7 linked regions of the Homo sapiens genome follow. Changing the gene in region 1 together with any one later gene gives a genetic interaction. Each region holds a gene or a part of one and is shown in the gene's direction. Other genes may lie near its edges. The genes, in order: TRAPPC12, HDAC8, SLC39A9, IGF1R, IGF2BP1, TRAPPC11 and SEC24A.

The links.
Region 2: changes in TRAPPC12 (region 1) and HDAC8 together harm fitness less than expected from each alone (positive genetic interaction), as found in Homo sapiens cells (one large-scale study listed by BioGRID).
Region 3: changes in TRAPPC12 (region 1) and SLC39A9 together harm fitness more than expected from each alone (negative genetic interaction), as found in Homo sapiens cells (one large-scale study listed by BioGRID).
Region 4: changes in TRAPPC12 (region 1) and IGF1R together harm fitness more than expected from each alone (negative genetic interaction), as found in Homo sapiens cells (one large-scale study listed by BioGRID).
Region 5: changes in TRAPPC12 (region 1) and IGF2BP1 together harm fitness more than expected from each alone (negative genetic interaction), as found in Homo sapiens cells (one large-scale study listed by BioGRID).
Region 6: changes in TRAPPC12 (region 1) and TRAPPC11 together harm fitness less than expected from each alone (positive genetic interaction), as found in Homo sapiens cells (one large-scale study listed by BioGRID).
Region 7: changes in TRAPPC12 (region 1) and SEC24A together harm fitness more than expected from each alone (negative genetic interaction), as found in Homo sapiens cells (one large-scale study listed by BioGRID).

The regions. Positions count from the first base shown.
Region 1 is NC_000002.12:3,417,694-3,421,193, forward strand, and holds part of TRAPPC12 (trafficking protein particle complex subunit 12), read left to right. Parts: intron 1-3,500. UniProt on the Homo sapiens protein: Component of the TRAPP complex, which is involved in endoplasmic reticulum to Golgi apparatus trafficking at a very early stage.
Region 2 is NC_000023.11:72,489,344-72,492,843, reverse strand, and holds part of HDAC8 (histone deacetylase 8), read left to right. Parts: intron 1-1,837; coding exon 1,838-1,915; intron 1,916-3,500. UniProt on the Homo sapiens protein: Histone deacetylase that catalyzes the deacetylation of lysine residues on the N-terminal part of the core histones (H2A, H2B, H3 and H4).
Region 3 is NC_000014.9:69,405,192-69,408,691, forward strand, and holds part of SLC39A9 (zinc transporter ZIP9), read left to right. Parts: intron 1-3,500. UniProt on the Homo sapiens protein: Transports zinc ions across cell and organelle membranes into the cytoplasm and regulates intracellular zinc homeostasis. Participates in the zinc ions efflux out of the secretory compartments.
Region 4 is NC_000015.10:98,914,039-98,917,538, forward strand, and holds part of IGF1R (insulin-like growth factor 1 receptor isoform 1 precursor), read left to right. Parts: intron 1-1,925; coding exon 1,926-2,093; intron 2,094-2,633; coding exon 2,634-2,838; intron 2,839-3,500. UniProt on the Homo sapiens protein: Receptor tyrosine kinase which mediates actions of insulin-like growth factor 1 (IGF1). Binds IGF1 with high affinity and IGF2 and insulin (INS) with a lower affinity. The activated IGF1R is involved in cell growth and survival control.
Region 5 is NC_000017.11:49,045,885-49,049,384, forward strand, and holds part of IGF2BP1 (insulin-like growth factor 2 mRNA-binding protein 1), read left to right. Parts: intron 1-5; coding exon 6-137; intron 138-375; coding exon 376-489; intron 490-3,467; coding exon 3,468-3,500. UniProt on the Homo sapiens protein: RNA-binding factor that recruits target transcripts to cytoplasmic protein-RNA complexes (mRNPs). This transcript 'caging' into mRNPs allows mRNA transport and transient storage.
Region 6 is NC_000004.12:183,665,793-183,669,292, forward strand, and holds part of TRAPPC11 (trafficking protein particle complex subunit 11), read left to right. Parts: intron 1-464; coding exon 465-634; intron 635-1,267; coding exon 1,268-1,338; intron 1,339-2,210; coding exon 2,211-2,325; intron 2,326-3,500. UniProt on the Homo sapiens protein: Involved in endoplasmic reticulum to Golgi apparatus trafficking at a very early stage.
Region 7 is NC_000005.10:134,655,285-134,658,784, forward strand, and holds part of SEC24A (protein transport protein Sec24A), read left to right. Parts: intron 1-3,500. UniProt on the Homo sapiens protein: Component of the coat protein complex II (COPII) which promotes the formation of transport vesicles from the endoplasmic reticulum (ER).

The DNA.
Region 1 (3,500 bases):
GAACTTCTTTGTTCTTCTTTCCACGAGAATTAAAACCTTAAGTTTCTCATTTTTAAAAATGGTCATTGGCCGGGCGTGATGGCTCACGCCTGTAATCTCAGCACTTTGGGAGGCCGAGGCAGGCAGATCACCGGAGGTCAGGAGCTCGAGACCAGCCTGGCCAACATGGCGAAACCCCATCTCTACTAAAAATACAAACTTTAGCCGGGCGTGGTGGCGGGCGCCTGTAGTCCCAGCTACTCAGGAGGTTGAGGCAAGAGAATCACTTGAACCCAGGAGGCGGAGATTGCAGCGAGTCGAGATCGTGCCACCGCACTCCAGCCTGGGCAATAGAGACTCTGTCTCAAAAAAAAAAAAAAAAAAAAACATTGTCATAGTGGCAGGCACAGTGGCTAATGCCTGTAATCCCATAATCCCAGCACTCTGGGAGGCTGAGGTGAGTAGATCACTTCAGCCCAGAAGTTCAAGACAAGCCTGGGCAACATGGGAAAACCATATCTCTACAAATACTCGCCTGCTTCTGCCACTCTGCACCATCAATATAAATAATAACTAATTCACAATAATCAGTCATGAAAGAATAAAATGGAAAACATGCCAAATGCAGGCCCCTGCTTTGTTATCACTGCATGCCATACACATAAAGTTCTCTGTCACGTGACTACAGGAGCATCTCCATTCCTGTGCCTCGTCCTCAGGTATCAGACGCAAGCCACTCGCGGGCTGAAGTCAGCCCACAGTCCTCCTTGAAGTCAACAGAAATGAACTACTGAGCCACGAGGGGCCTAGACCTGGGATCCGCCAGCGTTTTCTGTAAAAGACCATAGAATAAACATTGTAGACTTCCTGGCCATACAGTATCTGTCCAGCTCCTCAGCTCTGCTGTGAATGCCCAGCTCTTCCATGGTAGCACAGAACCTTATCACCGTGCAGGTGCACACGAGGCTGGGCTCTGGGTTCCTGTGAGCTCTGCCTACCAACTCAGGCAGTAGGGGGTGGGGGGCGTCCAAAGGATGTGCACAGATTGCCAGCACCAGGCCCAGCTGCTGGAACATCCTCATAGCTTTACTCACATCTACACGGACGCCTTAAGTTCACCCCATCAGTGCAGGGAGACAGGGGCCTTCAAATGTGATGACACGACACTGCTGTGGCCTGTGCTCTTGGAAGCCTGCAAAGGCCAGCACACCCGACCCTCCTCTGCCTCACCTCCTGTGCCACCCCATCCTCACCTGCTTCCCCAGCCTCTCCTCATCCACACCTGCTCGGCCCCTCCTCCACCGCCTCCCTCCGGCCCGCTGGTCCTTACTGCATCCCCTCGGGCCCTGCACCCTGCCCTCTGCTCCCTGTGCCCCCCATGCCTGCTCTCGCCTTGTTTTGCACACATTCTGTCCTCTTCTAGGGTCTCCGCCCCCTCCCCTTCCCTGATTAACTCCTGCCTGTCCTCACTGTAGGTCATGTCCTGAGGGAAGAGGGCCCCAGCCTTTCTAGCAGGAAAGGCCAGAGCCTTAGGCCTAGGGAACCAGGAAGGGAGCAGTTATTAGTTGCCCCTGGATACAGAATCTGCCTAGATGCATATATAGAACTGGTTCAGACTTGGCACAATCTCTTTCCCTCTCACTCTTTCACATTTGCAATTCAAAGAGAATATACAGAGCCATTTGTATTATATAAAGTGATTATTGCATTGAATTTAGACTAGAGAAGGCATTTGGAGATCGTTTTAGTAAATTATCGTAACCAATCTAAAAATACTTCTGAACTGTCAACCAGAACACAGAAATCCTGTATTACTTGCTGTAGTCTGGACAGTTTAGGGGAACGTGGCACCGATCTCATCTTCACCGTCGATCAGTGGTTCTCTGACTTGGTCCAGTGGCCGCACACCAGCTAGTGAAGAAAACCACAGACTCCAACTGCACTGTGTACGCTCTGGTGTCCTCATTTCCAAAAAAAAAAAAAAAAAATCTACAAGATAGAGTTTAAGAAATCTCATTTGAGTTGCCCTGCTAATATTTGCAGCTCGCTGGTGGGTGCCGTGGAGGCCAGTACTCACCGTCAGGCTGTGGCAGGTACAGTGAAAGGAAAAACTCCATGAGAGAACGGTGGAAAGTTCACCTGAGAGTGAAACGCATGCCAGTTAGAGTGGCTGAAAAATAGCATGGACAACACCAAGTGCCACGGGACGTGCAGCCGTGGGACCCCTCACTGCTAGGGAAGGCAAGATGGCACGGCCACTTAGGAAGACAGCTTGGCGGCCTCCTACAACACTAAACATACTCTTAGGTACAACCCAGCAATCCAGTTACTGCATTACGCTCCTGGATATTTCACCCAGTTATGCCGAATGCTTATATCCACACAAGAATCTGCCCAAAGATGTTGATACCAGCTTTATCCATAGTTGCCAAAAACTAGAGGCAACCAAGGGGTCCTTCGATAGGTCAGTGGGTAAACACACTGGTAATGTGGACAGTAGGATGTTCAGCATTTAAAAAAAAAACAACTATCAACCCCTCAGAAGACCTGGAGGAAACTGAGATGCCTGCAGCCCAGGGACGGCTGGTGGCTTGCAGCAGGTCACACGGCTACTCAGGCGTAGAGCCTGGCCTGTCTGAAGCTCAAGGCCCAGCACCCGTTCCTTTCCTTACACATAGAGTTTCACTAGGCACGCACACGCTGACTCTGGATTGATGAAGAAACAGTTTGGGAATTTTTAACAGCATCGTTCACATTTTTAATGCCTGCCTCCTGCCTGGCACTGTGCTCAGCACTTTCATGTATCTTCTTTAATTGTCACATCTGTGAGGTGGGACAGATGACCTCAGCTCTGTAAACTCAGCCATTGCTGAGCCTGCAGTGTGAGTGTGAGGCCACATGTCAGAACCCCGGAAGACACAAGCCCCACTCTCCTGCCTTCAACACAGCCCCCCACACCGCCGCTGTGGCTGGAATTGGAGCAGGTCGTTAGCTCCTGCCTGAGGAAGCCCAAATAAAGGACTGCAGAACAACTGTAGTGCAAAGCTGAGACTCATTGCCCTCCTAGGCGTTTCATGAGCAGGTCCTGAGTTCTCTGTGTCCCGGCGTGGAGTGCAGGAGGCGTGGAAAGGGAGTAGTGCGTGTGTGAGTTAGTATACAGAAGAAGTGTGTGGCAGGCTCTACCACACGTTTTTAAAATATGTAAACTCCTAAACTTCTTGTCAGAGAAGCGCTTGGCATGCACACAAAATCATTTAGCTAATTCTTGAGAAACATATTGTTTAATTGTCTGTCTCCCTTGCTAGATCATACCACTAATGAGTGCTCGTTCACTAACCTCCCCGCCAGCCTTGCAGTCTCTGTCAGGCAGGAGGTACTTAAAGCATGTTTATTGACTGGCTGCAGAAATGAGGACATCTACCGTATTCAAAGATAGTGCCCGTTACATTGAGAAAAGACAGAGTGAGCATCCACTTTTAGCTTCTTAAAAGGTTTAAACATTCTGATCTTATTTTCCCATT
Region 2 (3,500 bases), on another chromosome or scaffold:
TGCATATAGTAGTGGCTCATTAAAATATTTGATCAATGAATGATTATGAAATTCAAACTATTAGTATCGGAGTTTAAGAATACAATCAACTCTACAGAACCACATAAGAATGAACTGAAACTGTCACCTGAAAGTGTTCTTTCCATTTGCAATGTTATTTCTACACCCTTCAGAGTTTCCTGTTTTAGCCAACTTTTATGGTGTGTTTCATTTCAGTTTATTTCCCCTCTTCAGCACCTCCCTTACAGTGACCCCTGCCCCACCCCCCAACACTTATGCATTTGGTTTATTTTAAATCTCCCATGATTACATAACTAGCATCCTGTGGTGGCTTCACTAGCCACCCCTACCCCATCCTTGCCTTCTTTCATCTACCTAACTACTCTCCTCTTTCCCACCAAGTCCATAGCTTCCTCCTATCTGTGTACATCTCCTTTTTAAATATGATTTTATAACTGTGCCTAGTGGTATTTCCCATGAGAAGAAATACAAATGGCCACTAAACTTATGAAAAGGTGCTCAACACTCTAATACTCAAAGAAAGGCAAATTAGAGCAAAACCATTCTTTCTGCCTAAGATTAAAGAGAATAACAATAGTTTGGGAACTCTCATACATGATTGGTCCAAGTGTAAATTGGTACAACATTTCTGGATTGATCAATAATCAGGATTTTCATGAATTATCCTTGTTTAAGACTTCATTTCTAAGTTGAAATACTATTTTCATTTATTTTGTTTGTTTTATTTTTTTTACTTCATGCTTTTTGCTTAGAGCCTTTAACTGGATTTAACTGCCTCCCTAGGGCCAAACATAAGGCTTGGGAAATTCAAACATACCTGTTATATATAAATAGAGTTAATATTTTTTTAAAGTCGCTGTTGGGGCTGTAGTGAAGACTGAAAACATTAAATAAATACAGAGACAATTTCTTTGTTTGAAGTAAGAAAGAGGACAGTACCTGAATTTGCTAATAGTCCTCCCATTTTACAGATTGATTATCTGAACATAGTGTGACTATATGTGATTCTGAGAGGAAAGGGGTGGAGGTGGGCAGTGTGTTTACCTGTATACGTAGAGGCTTGTGAGGGTTACTTTAAATCCCAGCTTTTATCTCCCAGGCCTCTAATCGTTTACTCACTAAGTTAAAATGGAAAACAGACCCCTTTCTCGCCCATCTTTCTTCAGATTTTAAAACACTCTTATAAGGCTGCTATTAGGAGACAAGGTCACGGCTGTTTTCAGCCTTCCATGTTTTAGCCAGAAAGATGTACTATAAGTTACTTATTTATAACCAAATCTGCATTATAGAAAGGCACTTTATAATTAGGTTTTTGGTATATAATGGCTAATGTTTCTATTGGTCATATTTTTCAAAGGGTTATCACGTTGTACGTCTTTGGAAAAAATCCCAAGACTTTAACTATAACCACTTAAACAAGACAAAACATACAACTTGTAAGATGGTTCCAGTTTCCCTTATTCAATTCTGTTGATAATGCCTCAATTCTAGGCTCTCGCCTTTCCCTACTTTTTAGAACAGGTTGTCAAAGAGAGCCCAGACATCCCATTGCTTGGAAAGGGGAAGTCCAGTTATAGTTTTCCATGAGTTTGAAAAGGAACCCCCAAACTTCACTTGGGGCCAAAGTTCTACCTCATCTTGTAATTACGAGATTAGAGACCAGAGGTTCGTATTACTTTTATTCCTCAGCTTGTTAGTTTTATATTGCTGCCTTCTCATCTACCCTCCTTCTCACAGCTGCTTTCTAGATTTTCAGATGTTGAAAATAGGAATGCCATATGTGAAGTGATTCTTTTGATGTTTCTTTATCTGTTAGGTGTAGAAGACGCATTCAGTTTCACCTCCAAAGTCATGACCGTGTCCCTGCACAAATTCTCCCCAGGATTTTTCCCAGGCAAGTGATCATAAACTCAGTATTACATTTGATGACTAAATACTGAAATTCTTCTACACATTTCTTATACTTGGACAGTTCCATGCTGTTAATGCCTTACTGCCACAATCCTATGCAAAATTTTTTTTTTTGCATTTTCATTCAGATAGGAGATAATTTTGTAAATTTCTTTTTTATTATACTTTAAGTTTTAGGGTACATGTGCACAATGTGCAGGTTAGTTACATATGTATACACGTGCCATGCTGGTGTGCTGCACCCATTAACTCGTCATTTAGCATTAGGTATATCTCCTAAAGCTATCCCTCCCCCCTCCCCCCACCCCGCAACAGTCCCCAGAGTGTGATGTTCCCCTTCCTGTGTCCATGTGTTCTCATTTTTCAATTCCCACCTATGAGTGAGAATATGCGGTGTTTGGTTTTCTGTTCTCGCGATAGTTTACTGAGAATGATGATTTCCAATTTCATCCATGTCCCTACAAAGGACATGAACTCATCCTTTTTTATGGCTGCATAGTATTCCATGGTGTATATGTGCCACATTTTCTTAATCCAGTCTATCATTGTTGGACATTTGGGTTGGTTCCAAGTCTTTGCTATTGTGAATAGTGCTGCAATAAACATACGTATGCATGTGTCTTTATAGCAGCGTGATTTATAGTCCTTTGGGTATATACCCAGTAATGGGATGGCTGGGTCAAATGGTATTTCTAGTTCTAGATCCCTGAGGAATCGCCACACTGACTTCCACAAGGGTTGATCTAGTTTACAGTCCCACCAACAGTGTAAAAGTGTTCCTATTTGTCCACATCCTCTCCAGCACCTGTTGTTTCCTGACTTTTTAATGATCGCCATTCTAACTGGTGTGAGATGGTGTCTCATTGTGATTTTGATTTGCATTTCTCTGATGGCCAGTGATGGTGAGCGTTTTTTCATGTGTTTTTTGGCTGCATAAATGTCTTCTTTTGAGAAGAGTCTGTTCATGTCCTTCGCCCACTTTTTGATGGGGTTGTTTGTTTTTTTCTTGTAAATTTGTTTGAGTTCATTGTAGATTCTGGATATTAGCCCTTTGTCAGATGAGTAGGTTGCAAAAATTTTTTCCCATTCTATAGGTTGCCTGTTCACTCTGATGGTAGTTTCTTTTGCTGTACAGAAGCTCTTTAGTTTAATTAGATCCCATTTGTCAATTTTGGCTTTTGTTGCCATTGCTTTTGGTGTTTTAGACATGAAGTCCTTGCCCATGCCTATGTCCTGAATGGTGATGCCTAGGTTTTCTTCTAGGGTTTTTATGGTTTTAGGTCTAACGTTTAAGTCTTTAATCCATCTTGAATTAATTTTTGTATAAGGTGTAAGGAAGGGATCCAGTTTCAGCTTTCTACATATGGCTAGCCAGTTTTCCCAGCACCATTTATTAAATAGGGAATCCTTTCCCCATTGATTGTTTTTCTCAGTCCTGTGCAAAATTTTAACACAGGTCACCTCAGGTGACAATAACAAGAAGAATGACATTAAAGCTGTTTCTTTTTCCAGGTGATTTTTATGGACTGTTAACAGATCACTTATGCTTACTATACTAGTAGACACCC
Region 3 (3,500 bases), on another chromosome or scaffold:
CAACCAAACCATATCAGTGTCTGATTATAATAACTGACTCATTCATAATAAGTATCTTTAGGGGTTTGAGTTACCCGCAAATCAAAGGTTTATTGTGTCTGAAGAACAGATTTATTCAGTATGCTTCTGCCTCTACAATAGGTTCTCTTTGAAGTAGATTTAACAATGTTACATTTTTAAGGACTTTTATATTGTCTGGTACATTGCTCTTACCCTCTTATGGTAATACAAGAGATTTTATACCTGTTTGGAATTTCATTTGTAAATTCTAAGATTTGAGCCGGGCATGGTGGCTTATACCTGTAATCCCAGTGCTTTAGGAGGCTGAAGCTGGAAGTTTGCTTGAGGCCAGGAGTTTGAGACCAACCTGGGCAACAAGTGAGACCCTGTCTCAGATGAATGAACGTAAATTATAAAATTTTAAACTTTGCAATCTCAGTAAATTTATCCATATCTGGAAAGAAATCATCAGCTTGTCTTTTCTCAGATTGAACTACAGATTATTGTTTCATAAGGATCCTTGATAAAACTAAGTTTGGATCAAATAAAATCCGGTTGCAATATGATTCAATATTATTTTCCTGAAAAACTTTGTTTTCTCCAGGATACTATATTGATAAACATAATTAAGACTTATCTGCATAATAATATTAATAATGTTTATTGAGCTCTTTCTGTATACCAGGCAATGATATGCACTATCTTATTAATCCTCAGGACCAAGACTATGAGATACTGTTAAACCTCACTTTACAAATGAGCAAACTCAGGCTTGAAGAGGTCACAGACTCTGGTAGAGGTGTGATTTGGAACTAAGTCATTTTGATTCCTGTTGCCAAATCAGTCACTTGACTACTAAATGTTGCCTTTCCTAATGAATGCTGTGTAAAGAAGGAATGAAAATAGGATCTACCTAAATTGATGCCTTTAGCTCCCCAAATTAGGAACATCTTTCATACCTTCCACAGTATATCTCATGCTTTCTGCCTAGTCAGTGGAGTAGAACTTGAAACTCCAGAGGTAAACAGTCTCCAAATACCATTGAAACCTATAAGAAATAAGTTAATATGTCTTAGATGCCTTTTAAATTAACACCTGCCAATTTGGAATCTGAAGTAGTTCCTATTGTGAACTATCCAAGATGAATTTCACACTTGACATCCTCACAGGTTAGTCGTAAATTGTGCTGTTCAAGAAGTGACATCCTTTTCAAGAGAAGATGACATGAAATGGATTCAGAATGTTTCTGTATATGATAGTCTTAACCTCTCCTCTAATTAAAGAATTTAATGATGAGACTTTTGTTGAATGATAAGATCCCCTTCAGCTCAGTATGGAATTCCACACTGGGCTGAGCGCAGTGGCTCACGCCTGTAATCCCAGCTACTCGGGAGGCTGAGGCAGGAGAATTGCTTGAACCTTGGAGTCGGAGATTGCAGTGAGCTGAGATTGTACCATGGCACTCCAGCCTGGGCAACAGAGCGAGACTGTCTTAAAAAAAAAAAAAAAAAGTAGTAGTACTAAGTATGAGTACTGGTATTTCTTAAAACCTATAATGAAATTACAGAAATCTCAGTCTTCCTTGAATACTAATATTCAGTTTTTAACTTATTGAAATAAAATGGAAATAAATATTAGTTAGACTGGAAATTCTTTGTTTTTTTTTTTTTTTTTTTTGAGATGGAGTCTTGCTCTGTCGCCCAGGCTGGAGTGCAGTGGCGTGATCTCAGCTCACTGCAACCTCCCCTTCCCAGGTTCAAGCAATTCTCCTGCCTCAGCCCCCCCAGTAGATGGGATTACAGGTGCGTGCCACCATAACCAGCTAATTTTTTGTATTTTTAGTAGAGACAAGGTTTCACCATGTTAGCCAGGATGATCTGGATCTCCTGGCCTTGAGATCTGCCTGCCTCGGCCTCCCAAAGTTCTGGGATTACAGGCATGAGCCACCACACCCAGCCCTGGAAATTCTTACATGGAAATTCATTTTTAAATGAAAAGGTCTTGAGGGTAACTAATAGATAATTACATCAAACTATCTATTGCAAACCCTGTATTTATCTGACGTTAATTTCCTTCCTTCCTTTCTTTCCTTTCCTTCCTTCCCTTCCTTCCCTTCCTTCCTTCCTTCCTTCCTTCCTTTCTTCCTTCCTTTCTTCTTTCCTTCCTTCCAAATTTCACTCTTGTTGCCCAGGCTGGACTGCAATGGCATGATCTTGACTCACCATAACCTCCGCCTCCCAGGTTCAAGTGATTCTCCTGCCTCAGCCTCCCAAGTAGCTGGGATTACAGGCATGCACCACCACGCCCCACTAATTTTGTATTTTTAGTTAGAGACAGGGTTTCTCCATGTTGGTCTCAAACTCCTTACCTCAGGTGGTCTGCCCGCCTAGGCCTCCCAAAGTGCTGGGATTACAGGCGTGAGCCACTGCGCCCGGCCAATTTTCTTTCTTTTTTTTTTTATTTTGAGACAGAATTTTGCTGTTGTTGCCCAGGCTGGAGTGCAATGGCACGATCTCGGCTCACTGCAACCTCCTCCTCTCAGGTTCAAGAGATTTTCCTGCCTCAGCCTCCCAAGTAGCTGGGATTACAGGCGCCTGCCACCATGCCTGGCTAGTTTTGTAGTTTTAGTAGAGACAGGGTTTTTCCGTGTTGGTCAGGCTAGTCTTGAACTCCCGACCTCAGGTGAATCCGGCCTCCCAAAGTGCTGGGATTACAGGCATGAGCCACCGCACCCGGCCCTGCTATTATATTCTTTACGGTTCTCTCTTAGTCAATTCCTCATCATTCTAGTCCCCTTTTATGCTTTTATAGGTATTCCTTTTTTCTTTCTTTCTTATTTTGAGATGGAGTCTTGCTCTGTTGCCCAGGCAGGAGTGCAGTGGTATGATCTTGGCTCACCACAACCTCTCTCTTTGGGTTCAAGTGATTCTCCTGCCTCAGCCTCCCAAGTAGCTGAGATTACGGCTGCCTACCAACACGCCCGGCTAATTTTTGTATTTTTGGTAGAGACAGGGTTTTGCCATGTTGGCCAGGCTGTTCTCAAACTCCTGACCTCAGTTGATCAGCCCGCCTTGGCCTCCGGAAGTGCTGGGATTACAGGTATGAGCCACCATGCCCAGCCCCCTTTTGTAGGTATTCTTTATGTTAAACTTTCTCTCTTCAAATTACTTTATGCTTTCTCTTTGATGAAAGGACCCTGACTGATAGAGGTAGGTAATGGATCATAAAATCAAATAAGGCTGAACAGAGAATTAAGCCTGGAGTAAAATAAGACAGCCCCAGTGTCATGATATATGGCAGCTGACCTTCAGTGTCAGTGCCTGGGAGTCATTAGGGAGAAGTGAGAACTGTGGGCATCTAAAGGGCACATATCATTTGATGACACCAAATCTTCCTATTTTTCCAAAGCTAGAAATCTGGATTTTTATATGAAGTCTCCTGAATTTTATCCTTTGGCTACTTATTCAAATATTGTATCAGTGCGTGGGCCAAACAACCCA
Region 4 (3,500 bases), on another chromosome or scaffold:
CGCTGGCAGATTTGGTGTCTGGTGAGGGCCCACTCCCTGGCTCATAGATGGCTGTCTTTTCATTGTGTCCTTGCATGGTGGCAGGGATGCGGGAGCACTCTCCGGGGCCTCTCATAGAAGGGCCTGGATTCCATTCATGAGGGCTTCACTCCCATGACCCAATCACCTCCCAAAGGCCATGCCTCCTAATTCCATCCCCTTAGGGGTTAGGATTTTGACATGTGAGTTTTGGTAGGGGACACAGGCATTCACTCTATAGCACTGATAAACATTCTTTGATAATAGCCATTATTTTAGTGGGTAAGGTGTTTTTAAATACCCATAAGCGAGCACAAAATCAGTTTAAATGGCAGAGAGGAGGGTGAGAAGAAAATGCTGGTGGGGAAAACCTTTTGCTGTGCACGCCTGCTCCTTCCTCCACTCCTACCCCATCTCCATGACCCTGTAAGTGGCCACAGTCATGTCACTGGGTAAAGTGCTTATTGAAACAAAATTGGCACAGGCTTCTGATCCTGCGTGTGGGTTGGTGTAGCAGAGGTTCAGTGCAACAGAAGAAGTTTTTCATCTTAAAATTTGGAAGTAACCCCTGGCCAGCAATTCACTGTAGTGTTTGGGAAACATAGGAATATCTGCTTATTGTGACAGATTCTCAAGAAACCTGTTTCCTTTCCACAAAGATGGAAACCAGGCACTGTACCAATGAGTCAGTTCACTACGTTTTGTCCTCTGTCCTTACACGCAGCGGAGACAGACGAGAACTTGGTCCTCTGCCTCTGCTGTTTGGTGACACCTATCGTAAGAATGTATCTAGGAATGAGCTGTTTGTTTTTGAAGTACTTATTTTTGGAAACCCTAAAGTGGCTGAGCATCAAGTGGTTGTGTTTTCTCTGAAAACGCCAGTATTAGTCATAACCTTTTTCCAAAGTATCATCCCTTAAAGATGTTCAGAACCTTGTGTGTATCGTATAACCTGGAGCACCCTCAAGCTGTCCGCCCTTTTCAAGTTTTAAAAATGGCTTAGGCAAACATATTGCTTAAGTGATATCCAGTGAAGGTGTCTCCTGTGCTTTGAAAAACCATCAACATTGATGCTTTTTTGTGACCCAATAAGGACAAGATTTCAGTGGTTCTGGGATGCATTTGATCTTTATGCACACTTCAGCTCTGGGTTTCAGTTCAGGGGTCAGCATAAGTAAAGCTTGATCAGATAACTATGCTTTGCCTATAATCGGCATTCATTCTGCTGGTGACAGAGTCCTTTGCTCAAAATGAGGCTTCCATGCGTTTGCAGTTCTAAACTGCTTTTCAGAGTCATGCCTCAGTCATTGTACTGAAGGATGCCTGTGGAAATGGTGGACTTCCGTGTTCTTTGCATTGCCTCTCCCCCATCCCTCTTACACACAGCTGTGACATGGGCATGCACACTCCTTCACACACACAGACTCTCCAGGCCCCTTTCCACTTCCTCTTTCCATTTGGCTTCATGACATTTTTATCAGAGATTCAAAATCTCAGATGAAATCCAAGTCAGCCTGTTTTACCAGTTGTCGAAATTGCCGGAGTGCAGCACTGTGGAGAATGGCAGTTGTAATAAATGAGAAATACCAGGTGTTTGAATTAGCTGTAGATTTTCACATTGTCTCTTCTAACCCTGCTTGTGCCCCCGCAGCCTTTTTCCATTTACAACTCAGTAATGTTTGTTTTCACAGAGATTACCGGAGGAAATAGATTATAAAGGGAAATGTTGGCATTTATAGTAGTACTATTTCAAAATAAGGTTCACTTTTCACTTTGTATTTCATTGTTCATTGTTATTTTCTTATCCAGGTCAAACTGGCAGTTTCCTGTTGGCTTGCCAGAGTATCTGATAGCCTGACTCTTAAGTTCATTTCATTTTCTAGAATGTTCTTTGTTCCCCTCTCCAGTTCCTTCCATTCCCTTGGACGTTCTTTCAGCATCGAACTCCTCTTCTCAGTTAATCGTGAAGTGGAACCCTCCCTCTCTGCCCAACGGCAACCTGAGTTACTACATTGTGCGCTGGCAGCGGCAGCCTCAGGACGGCTACCTTTACCGGCACAATTACTGCTCCAAAGGTAAGGGTGCAGCAGCGGCCTGGACGGAGGGTGTGACCGTTCATTCCTGTGGTTGTAATGTGCCTGAGCCCTAATATTACACGTATCAGACAACAGTGTAGTTCTCCATTGGAAACCAGCTATCTTCTGGTTTTTTTTTTTTTTTTTTGAGACAGAGTCTCACTCTGTTGCCCAGGCTGGAGTGCAGTGGCACGATCATGGCTCACTGCAATTTCTGCCTCCCAGGTTCAAGCATTTCTCATTCCCCAGCATTCCGAGTAGCTGGGATTACAGGCATGCACCACCATGCCCAGCTAATTTTTGTATTTTTAGTAGAGACGGGGTTTCACCATGTTGCCCAGGCTGGTCTGAAACTCCTAACCTCAGGTGATTTGCCCGCCTCGGCCTCCCAAAGTGCTGGGATTATAGCCTTGAGCCACCACATCTGGCCGAGACCAGCTATCTTCTTGATTAAAGGTACTGAGAGCTATTATTTTTCCTTACAAGCATGTATAACGGCTTTCATTCCCACTCTTGTTTTGGCTTTTCTTTTCCGAGAAGACAAAATCCCCATCAGGAAGTATGCCGACGGCACCATCGACATTGAGGAGGTCACAGAGAACCCCAAGACTGAGGTGTGTGGTGGGGAGAAAGGGCCTTGCTGCGCCTGCCCCAAAACTGAAGCCGAGAAGCAGGCCGAGAAGGAGGAGGCTGAATACCGCAAAGTCTTTGAGAATTTCCTGCACAACTCCATCTTCGTGCCCAGGTACCCAGCTCATGTGAAATTTCAGTTGGCAAAACCCACTGCTCAGGCCGGTTCTGTTGCCTTTCTCCCCACCAGGTAGTGTGTAAGTCAGCAGCTGGGGGGTACAATACAGTAGCCACTGAGACGGAGCCGAAAAAGATGACAGGTTCGGTGAAGTGAGTCCCTGCGGAAGCCAGTCAGCCCTGAAGGGAACAGGGACCAGGGCTTGGGTTGCTGGGGCCACCGGTGTGACAGGTACTGCTGTCTCAGCCACAACCCCCCACAGAGAGCAGGTGGGCACCCTGTGGTAGAGGCAGGGAGGGGAAACTCAAAGAGTATTGACAGCTGCTGCCTGGTGAGAGGAAAGGCCAGGATTTGGGTCCATCTCTGCCCTTCCTAATTATCTTTACTGCCTCTCTCAGCCTCACAGAGGAGGAGTGAAGCAAGAGGGAAAAAAGTCAGAGTCTGTGCTGGAAAGGGCCTGACTTCAAAACATAGCCAGGTGCCACAGGCATCCTGTACAAGTAAGTTTGGGAAGCAGTGTAGGGCGACAGCCTGCATTGGCTGTTTATTCCGTGGTTACTCTGTCTTTCAAAGCAACACAGCCCCTGCCCCAGGGACTCTGCTCCTCTGCTGTGGTCTTGGTTTCTGGGGAGTGGGGACAAAAGCAGAGGAAAGTAAAC
Region 5 (3,500 bases), on another chromosome or scaffold:
CTCAGGCTCAGGGAAGAATCTATGGCAAACTCAAGGAGGAGAACTTCTTTGGTCCCAAGGAGGAAGTGAAGCTGGAGACCCACATACGTGTGCCAGCATCAGCAGCTGGCCGGGTCATTGGCAAAGGTGGAAAAACGGTGAGCTGTGAGGGCCAGGTTGAAAGCCCTGGGCCTTGGTCTCCAATCTCAGCAGCTCTCTCTGGTCTCCTGTACTGCTCAACCTCAGGACTCCTGATTTGCTCATTTACTTGATTCTACTCCCCAAGCTCAGGTCCTGACTCTTCCAGGTTCTCCCCACTAGTCACCCTGGCTCCTCCCTCCAACCCCACCCATGCTTTCTTGATGGCACCCTGAGCTCCTCTCTGGCCACCCCCAGGTGAACGAGTTGCAGAATTTGACGGCAGCTGAGGTGGTAGTACCAAGAGACCAGACCCCTGATGAGAACGACCAGGTCATCGTGAAAATCATCGGACATTTCTATGCCAGTCAGGTACATATGGTGCTCCCCCATTGAGGGAGGGCTGCAGGAGCCCAGGGAGCAGAGAAGCAGAGACTCTATAGAGGTTGACCTTCATGACGTTGACAAGTCCTGGGGCCTCAGCCACATCTGCCTGCCTCTAGGCTAGGTTATTGCCCTCTTTCAGGTGCAGAAGTGGGATGTGTAGATGACATATTACCTCTTATTACTCTCTAGGAAAAGTGATTTGACAAGTTTAATGTACATATATTGTGTATAACATTATATATATAAATAACATATATATGAATATATATTATATGTAAATATATATATATATGTTCTACGTTAGTCCCTCCCTAACCCCTTTCTGCACTGGTTAAGAAAGAAGATTAGTTTTGTTCATGGAATAATGATAACAGTACTAACACCCTGGATTGATGGCATTTTTGAAATGTAGTCCCTCTGCCTTTCGCAGAATGGCTGTTCTCTCCCTGGTTTCTGCTCTTCCACCCTCCCATTCCTTTCCCAGAACTCATCATTGCCGTTCAGCACTCGGACAGGCTCCAGAGCATGGAAGGGAAGGCCAATATCAGGTTCAAATTTTGCTGAACCTCAGCAAGGCAAGCAAACAGGTGGTTGGCAGCTAATGGTGTTTTCCTAAAGTCTTAAATCCATCATTGTTAGAACTGGAAAGGAACTTTGGAGACTGTTGATCACAGTTCCTACAATTCATAGAAGATATCCAGATCTTAGCAGGCTTGTGGTCTGCTGGGGCTGCTAGAGCAATTGGGGCAAACTGGCTCTTGGTTTTTTGGCTTCCAGTGCCCATATAGTATAGCATCAAGTATGAAGGTTTTGGATCCAGGGAGCTTTGACCTCAAACTTCACATACATAGCCTTTCTGCTATGTGACCTTGGATAAGTAACTTTCTCTGATAACCCTTTGAGAAGTATTAACAAGAGGCTTTAGTTACATCTCAACTATATATATATATAAAATAACAAAAAAGTATTAATAAGAGCCATAATAATAATAATATCTAAGATTTATCGATGCCTTTGTATACCCAGCACTGTTTTATGTGGCTTATGTATATTAACTCATTTAATTCCCACAACAATTTCATTTTATAAATGAAGCTTAAGAGGGTAAATGTGAATCTTTAATTCAGCGTTTTTTTTTTAAAGAGAGTAAAGGATACCTCCAAAGATGCATAAAGCCAGGATATATTAATATTAAACACTGAAGCAATTTTAGCTGATCAGAATGAGAATTAAATGAAAAGCTATGTAAAACATCAAGCCAGGGTTGATGGAGTTGGACCTCTTATTGACTTACACATTATTTTCCCAACCTAGATCAACTTCCTCTTTTTTTTTTTTTTTTTGTGACAGGGTCTCGCTCTGCCATCCAGGCTGGAGGGCAGTGGTGTGACCACAGCTCACTGCAGCCTCTACCTCCCAGGCTCAAGTGATCCTCCCACCTCAGGCCCCCCAAGTAGCTGGGACTACAGGCAGGTACCACCACGCTCAGCTAATTTTTGTATTTTTTTGTAGTGATGAGGTTTCACCATGTGGCCCAGGCTGGTTTCAAACTCCTAGGCTCAAGTGATGTCACTGCTTCAGCCTCCCAAAGTGCTGGGATTACAGGCATGAGCCACAATGCCCAGCCTCAGCTGCTTCTTTAACCAGGAAAGGAAGCACTCATTTATGGAAAGGAGACATTCTGGTCTTCATTCTATGAAGTGAATCCCATTTTGCAGTTTATTTCCTTTATAAAACTTTATTCTTAGGGAAGAACCTTTTAAGAAGGAAATAATAAAAGATTGGGTATTTTGTCCATTTTTACAGTGAAGCTTATGTATTTATGCTTTTTGACTAACCCATATCTGGACTTTATTTTTTATTTTTACTTTTTTTTTTTTTTGAGATGGAGTCTCGCTGTGTTGTCCAGGGTGGAGTGCAGTGGCACAATCTTAGTTCACTGCAACTTCCGCCTCCCCTGTTCTAGTGATTCTCCTGCCTCAGCCACTCAAGTAGCTGGGATTACAGGCGCACGTCACCACGCTCGGCTAATTTTTGTATTTTTAATAAAGATGGGGTTTCACCGTGTTGGCCAGTCTGCTCTCGAACTCCTGACCTCAGGTGATTCACCCGCCTCAGCTCCCCAAAGCGCTAGGATTACAGGCATGAGCCACCGTGCACCTGGCCATATCTAGACATATTATTCCTTTTCCTGGGGTATTAAAATGAAGCGTGGATTTGTGATGATGTCTTCTAAGTTACGACCCTCTACAACAGGAGTCCCCAAACCCCGGGCCACGGACTGGTACCGGGCCACACAGCAGGAGGTGAGCGGCAGACGAGTGGGCATTACCTCCTGAGCCCCGCTTCCTGTCAGATCAGGGCGGCATTAGATTCTCATGGGAGGGCTAACCCTGTTGTGAAGTGCTCGAGGGATGCGCAGTGCATGTGAAGGATCTAGGTTGCACACTCCTTATGAGAATCTACTGCATGCTGATTTGAGGTTTCATCCTGAAACCACTTCCCCACCCCCACCTCCATCCGTGGAAGAAAAATTGTTTTCCATGAAACCAGTTCCTGGTGCCAGAACAGTTGGGGACCACTGCTCTGCAATATGTAATATATTTCTGCCTAGAAACTCTAGGCATTCTGTTTTGCGTTTGGTAATGTTTATCAACTTTGTCAAGTTTTAAATTCTGATGAATGGATTGATACTACTGTTTCTCCTTCCTTCAAGTCCCCCAACCCCATCTCCCACTTAACACCCACCACGTTTGCTGTATTTTCCAGGGGATACTCAGGCTCCACTGGAGGCAAAGAAATGTAAGGTCACCCCAACCCTCATTCTTCCTCTTTATCTTTCTTCTGAGTCCTGTGTGACCTGTTCTGTTTATTGCCTGTGTCTGGACCTGATGACCTCTCTTCCGTGGAAGGCTGTCTCCTTGGAGGTCTCACACCCACTCTCTTGCCTGTTCTTGCTGCAGATGGCTCAACGGAAGATCCGAGACATCCTGGCC
Region 6 (3,500 bases), on another chromosome or scaffold:
AAATGCATCACAGCAATATGTCTTTGAAATAAACAAAGCCTATTGGATTTTAGATAATATTTTATTTGAGCAGTTTTACAAGAACAGAAGCTGGAATGGTGAAGAATATAAGTAGAATTTACCTGGAAATGGGCTACTTTTTTTTTTTTTTTTTTCTTTAGCAAAGTATTTGAGACCCTTGACATCATTAGACATGCATCATCGTTTTATGCATTCAGTTATGGGGCTGATAGAAACTCTTTGGCTTCAGTCATTCTTTAAATGGGAAGTATAGCTTCTCCAGGGTTGAGATTCCACCTTCAACACTTACTAGTTCTTACTGAATCTGTAAGCCTGAGTTTCCTAATCAAAAATGGGAGGTGTGTATATTGAATGAGATCAATGCACATAAAGTGCTTGGCACTCAGTAACAGGTGGTTTCTGCTCCTGTCAGGTAACTTTTCAATTTCTGCCAATGTTTGCAGAGAACTTCATATGAGTGGTACATTCCTAAAGGGATCTTAAAGACTGGCTGGATGAATAAGCATCTGAATCTGGTGCCAGCCCTGGTGGTTGTGTTCTATGAACTGGACTGGGATGAGCCTCAGTGGAAAGAAAAGCAGTCTGAGTGCGCCACCAGAGTGGAAATAGTCAGGTATGATCTTCTGTGTCAGGGCAGCTATGTCAGTTTGCACATGTGTGTTATTCACTAACATTCCTTGAAGGCAATGGAGTACCGTTCAGACTGCAGTGGTCACTTTGCGGATTGACCTCCAGTGAATCTTGTTCACTTCCTCACAGGTAGCATAATTATTGACTGTATATAATGCTGGGTACGTGAAGAAATTTAGAAGACTAATTGGTCTGAATTTCCAAATGTTTTTCTTGTATTATCTTTTTTGGAGACATAGTAATTTACTGTTTAGTCTCTTAAAACGCTTTGCTTTATCACTGTTTAAGTTTCAAATAATTAATTCTTTTGGATGACTACTCTGCAGTGTATCACCATAAAGAAGTAAGTTGCATTATAACTTTTACGTAAAAGTATACATTAATCTTTTGCTTTTAAGGAAGATTTTTAAGATTAGAAGATGTGAGATCATACTTTTAGAATTTAAATCATTGTGACATATATGTGCTTTGTGTGCAGGAAAAGATTTCTTCTGATCTTGGTTTTTTTAGTTGAAATTTATCTTCGGTTGAATGACCAAGGTTGTATTTTATGTGAAGTCATGAATACATTTTTTAAGTTAAAATAATTAATTTTATTCTTGCTTTTTCATTGCAGGCAAAGTTTACAAGGAAGAAACACAAAAGTTGCAGTGGTTCTGATTCAGAAGAAAACCCCTTTGCCCCCAGGTATCAGAAGTCTAATTAATGAATTAATTGTTTTATACCTCCAATTCTTATTAAAGGGAGATAGGGGTTTTTTGGATGTTTAAATCTTTTATGCATTCAGTTATGGGGCTGATAGTATGTTAACTTTAAAAAGCACCAATGATACATGAACAAATGCTTATTGTAAAAAATTAAAGATAGTGAAGAATGCAAATCTCAAGTTCCCCTAGTTCCCCTGTTCCACTTGTCTTCTTATGTAGGGGATATAGGAAGGCATGTTCAATTCACAAAACAATTCGCTTGAATTTTTTTACAAGAGTATAATTTTTTTTGACTTCCAAAGCTTTCCAAAAAAGAATATAATTTACTTATCTAAGATCTATTTGAAGCTGTATTCCTTATATGAAATTTTTTCATTAATTTTCTGTAGGGCAAAGAAAAAGGCTATAGGATTTGTAGTTTTCTCTTGGAAAATGTCTTAGTTTCAGATTCTTATTTCCACTTTCCCAGACTTTTGTAGACCAAAATATATTTTTGTTTCTGTGTTGAAACTTATAGCATCCAAAATGGTTTTGGAGACTTCTTTCATGAATTATTGCTTCCAGTTTTAGTTATGTTTTTTGAAATAGTTATGTGGTATATCTGTTGGCATTACTTGGCCACCTATCCTGGCTCAGTAGAAAATTCCACAGTGTTTTCCTAAAAGGCATATACTGTGTAACCTCTAAGAACCACACAGAGCTCTCAAGGAGCCCAGGAGTCCTGTTGGTGTGATGAAAAGCTGTTTGGGTTTTTATTCCTAATTCTATTTTTTCAGACTTGGGGAAATATTTATTTGGGAAGCTACATTAGTTATTTTATTTCTCATTCATCTTGATGGGGATTATCAACAGGAGAAGATGTCATTGCTTCAGAAAGGGCTGCAGCTTTATGCAATGCATGTGAACTCTCAGGAAAGTCTTTGTTTGTACTGCCGCACACTGACCACCTTGTGGGTTATATTATAAGGTAAGTAGAGGTCTTTTAAAGTTTTGTTTTTTTAGATTATTAAGAATTGAGAAATTGGTAGCTTAGACCCATTTATTTTTTTAAAAAATCATGTTCATGAAAAACATTCATATGATACAGAGGCTATGGGGTAAAAATAAAAGTCTTTTTTGTTAAATTCTTAACCCTCTCCAATTCCCTGAGGTAACCAGTATCAACAGTTGCTCAAGTTTCCTTCCAAAAAAAGTCTTTTTGTATAAGAACAAATATATGTATTTCTTTATAGTATCCATACCACACACACAAACACAAAAACATAAATGTGCTCATATGATACACAGTGATCTTCCACTTAACATTACCTCATTAACATGCTTCCATATGTGCATCTAGGTCAACTTTATTTAAAGAAACAAAGTTTATATGTTTCTCCATTATACTTTCCAGTAATTACCCATGTCCTTGAGTGACATGTATGTCCTTTTTTGTGAGAGTGTCTCCATTCCACTCTGGCCTGTTTTTGCTTCATTCTTGAGCTGTCGATGTATCTATGTCACTAATTTCTTAGGAAGGTGTGAGCCCTATCATATCTTAAATATTTTTATAAAGCCTTTGTGTATAAAGGGCAGATTACCTGGAGACACAACATTACCTCAAAAATCATGTGGTCATTATTCATTGTTTTGTAGCATTTATTGTCACACAGAAGTTTTGTAGTAGTACATTTTATGCTAGGATGTATTTAGATATGAATATTTTCATTGATTTTGACTGTAAAATGGTTTTCCTTTTCATTCTGCATAAGTGTCCTTCGTTAACTCATGAACAGTTTTATTTATTTTTGAGTATTGCTTCTCTTGCATTTGTTTCTTTCTCAGAAGCAAACCTCTGAAAATGATCCGCTGCAGGAGGTTACCTGGCCTTCTCACTGGTATATAAAAGACCAGGCTTCTAAGAAAGAGAAGCATACATTTAGCAGAGAACATGCAGAGGAATAGGATCAAATGAAAAGATGAATTGCAAAGAAACTTAAATGCAATTAGCAAAATAAATCTTTACACTGGAAGCAGTAAACAGTAGAATTCACACCACAGAAAATCAAGTCCATGGTGCCCAGGGTAACATTGAGATAATTGCTTAGAATTCAGAGGAAAAGAATAAATGAGTTTTATTCCTTAAATGCAGACATATGAGCA
Region 7 (3,500 bases), on another chromosome or scaffold:
TCATCTGCATTCATTCTTGCCTCTAACTTTCTAATTTAGCTTCTTTACCCACACATCCCAAAATTGTCCTTAATAAGGCCACAAGGCTGGGCGTGGTGGCTCATGCCTGTAATCCCAGCACTTTGGGAGGTCAAGGCGGGTGGATCACAAGGTCCGGAGTTCAAGACCAGCCTGGCCAACATGGTGAAACCTTGTCTCTACTAAAAATACAAAAATTAGCCGGGTGTGGTGGCGTGCGCCTGTAATCCCAGCTACTCAGGAGGCCTCAGCCTCCTGAGTGATTCTCAGCAGGAGAATCACTTGAACCCGAGAGGTGGAGGTTGCAGTGAGCCGAGATCATGACATTGCACTGCAGCCTGGGCGACAGAGCAAGAATTCATCTCAAAATAAATAAATAAATAAATAAGGCCACAAATGGCTTCCTGGTTATTAAATAGAAAAATATTTTTCAGTTCTCATTTTCCGAGCTGCATTTGATACCTTTGGCTGTTATTTTGTTTTTACAACAATTGCTTTCTTTGGTTTCTAGGATATCACCAGAAGGGTAGTTATGGTTTTCTTTCTTTTTTTTGGTTGCTATTTCTCAACAGCAGTATTCTCAATATTTCTTCCATTTCTGATTGTTTTTTTCTCTCTCCTCCTTAAATATTGGTGTTCTTCAAGGTGACCTATTTTTCTTACTCTTATATACTCCCTGGGTGTCTTTAATTCCCATGGTTTTAAATCTTATGCATAGATCAGTGACTCCCATAATTATATCTTAAGGTGAAATCTGTCACTTTGGCTGCAGCTAAATATCTTTTTTTTTTTTTTTTTAAGACAGAGTCTTGCTCTGTTGCCCAGGCTGGAGTGAGGTGGCACGATCTTGGCTCACTGCAACCTTTGCCTCCTGGGTTCAAGCGATTCTCCTTTCTCAGCCTCCGGAGTAGCTGGGACCACCGGCATGTGCCACCACACCCGGCAAATTTTTTGTATTTTTAGAAGAGATGGGGTTTCACCGTCTTAGGATGGTGTTGCTCTCCTGACCTCATGATCTGCCCGCCTTGACCTCCCAAAGTGCTGGGATTACAGGCCTGAGCCACCGCGCCCAGCGCAGATAAATATCTTTATACTGGACATCTCCACTTAGATTTCTTGGTGGCACCTGAAAATTAGTGTGTTTAAAATAACTCTTCGATCTCTCTTCCCTTTGCCATTCCCCACCTTTGTTTTTTTGAGACAGAGTCTTGCTCTGTCAACCAGGCTGGAGTGCAGTGGCACGATATCCGCTCATTGCAACCTCCGCCTCCCAGGTTCAAGCAATTCTCCTGCCTCAGCCTCTGAGTAGCTGGGACTATAGGCGTGTGCCACCATGCCCGGCTAATTTTTGTATTTTAGTAGAGACGGGGTTTCACCGTGTTGGTCAGGCTGGTCTCGAACTTCTGACTTCAGGTGATCCACCCACCTCGGCCTCCCAAAGTGTTGGGATTACAGGCATGAGCCACTGCATCCGACTTTTTTTTTTTTTTTTTTTTTAAAGACAGCTCTCATTCTGTCGCCCTGGCCGGAATGCAATGATGCAATGATAGCTCACTGCAGCCTTGAACTCCTGGGCTCAAGTAATCCTTGATCCTTGATCAAGTGGGTGGAGTGGCTCATGCTTGTAATCTTAGTACTTTGGGAGGTCGAGTCAAGAAGATCCCTTGAGCCCAGGAGTTCGAGACCAGCCTGGACAACTTAGGGAGACCCCATCTCTACAAAAAAATTTAAAAATTAGCCAGGCATAATGGTGCACGCCTGTAGGCCCAGCTACTCAAGAGGGGAGGTGGGAGGATCGCTTGAGCTTGGGAGGTCGAGGCTGCGGTGAGCTGTGACACTTCAGCCTGGGTGGCAGAGCGAGACCTCATTTCTGAAAAACGCACACACACACACACACACACACACACACACAACCAAAACTTATATTTTGTAGAGATAGGGACTTGCTATTGCCCAGGCTGGTCTCAAACTCCTGGCCTCAAGTGATCCTCCCACCTTGACTTTCTAAAGTGCTGGGATTGCAGGCATGAGCCACCGTGCCTGGCCTACATTTCTATTCTTTTCTCTTTCTGTTCAAATGAATAAACACGGCCATCCACCAGGTTGCTCAGGTCAGAAACCTAGGAGTCATCCTAGATTTTTTCCTCTCTTCATCACCCATATTCAATTCCACATAAAATCCCATGAATGCTGTTTCCTCAAATCAGTTTTTAAAAATTTGAGTAATGTATAGATACTAAATATTTCTCTGCTGTCCCAATGTTAAATTATTTATTTATTTATTTTACTTCTGACACAGGTTCTCACTCTGTTGCCCAGGCTAGAGTGCAGGGGCATGATCACAGCCCACTGCAGGCTTGATCTCTTGGGTTCAAGTGATCCTCCCGCCTCAGCCTCCCAAGTAGCTGGGAATATAGGCACGTGCCACCACAACTGGCTAATTATTTATTTTTTTGTAGAGACGAGGTCTCACTATATTACCCAGGTTATTCTTGAACTCCTGAGGTCAAGCCGTGCTCCCACCTTGGCTTTTCAAAGTGCTCGGATTACAAGATCAAGCCAACATGCCTGGCAAAAATTATTTTTATTAAATGTGTATATGCAAACACAAAACTAGATGTAAACTTCATAGGGTTATAGCTATTGTACTATTGTAAAACCAAACATTAAAAATATCAACATATGGCTGGGCATGGTGGCTCACGCCTGTAATCCCAGCACTTTGGGAGGCTGAGGTGGCCAGATCACTTGAGGTCAGAAGTTCAAGAACAGCCTGGCCAACATGGTGAAATCCCGTCTCTACTAAAAATACAAAATTAGCCAGCGTGGTGGTGCACACCTGTAATCCTAGCTACTCGAGAGGCTGAATGAGGCAGGAGAATCGCCTGAACCCAGGAGGCGGAGGTTGCAGTGAGCCGAGATCGCACCACTGCACTTTAGCTTGGGCAACAGAGCGAGACTCTGTCTCAAAAAAAAATCAAAAGCAATATAATTCAATTTTAAAACATTAAACAATATGCTACATTTTGTTTGAAACCACAGTTGATTTGATTGTTTTAATTTTGAATATGTTGGAACATTACTTGGGTGACTATCATGCTCACTTTTTCCTTTTTGTTTTTGAGACACGTTCTCACTCTGTAGCCCAGGGTGGAATGCCTAATTATAGCTCACTGAAGTCAAACTCCTGGGCTCAAGCAGTCCTCTTGCCTCAGCCTCCTGAGAAGCTAGATCTACAGGCATGTGCCACAACTCCTGGCTAATTTTTTAATTTTTAATTTTTTTGTGTGGAAATGGAGTCTCGCTGTGTTGCCCAGGCTGGTCTCCTACTCCTGAGCTCAAGTAGTTCTGCTTTGGCCTCCCAGTGTGATGGGATTACAGGCATGAGCCACCATGCCCAACCTCTACACGATTTTAATAGGGGAAGAATGGGGTGGGGGAGAGGACATTTACTGGAAAACAGACGACTTATAGGAAGGATA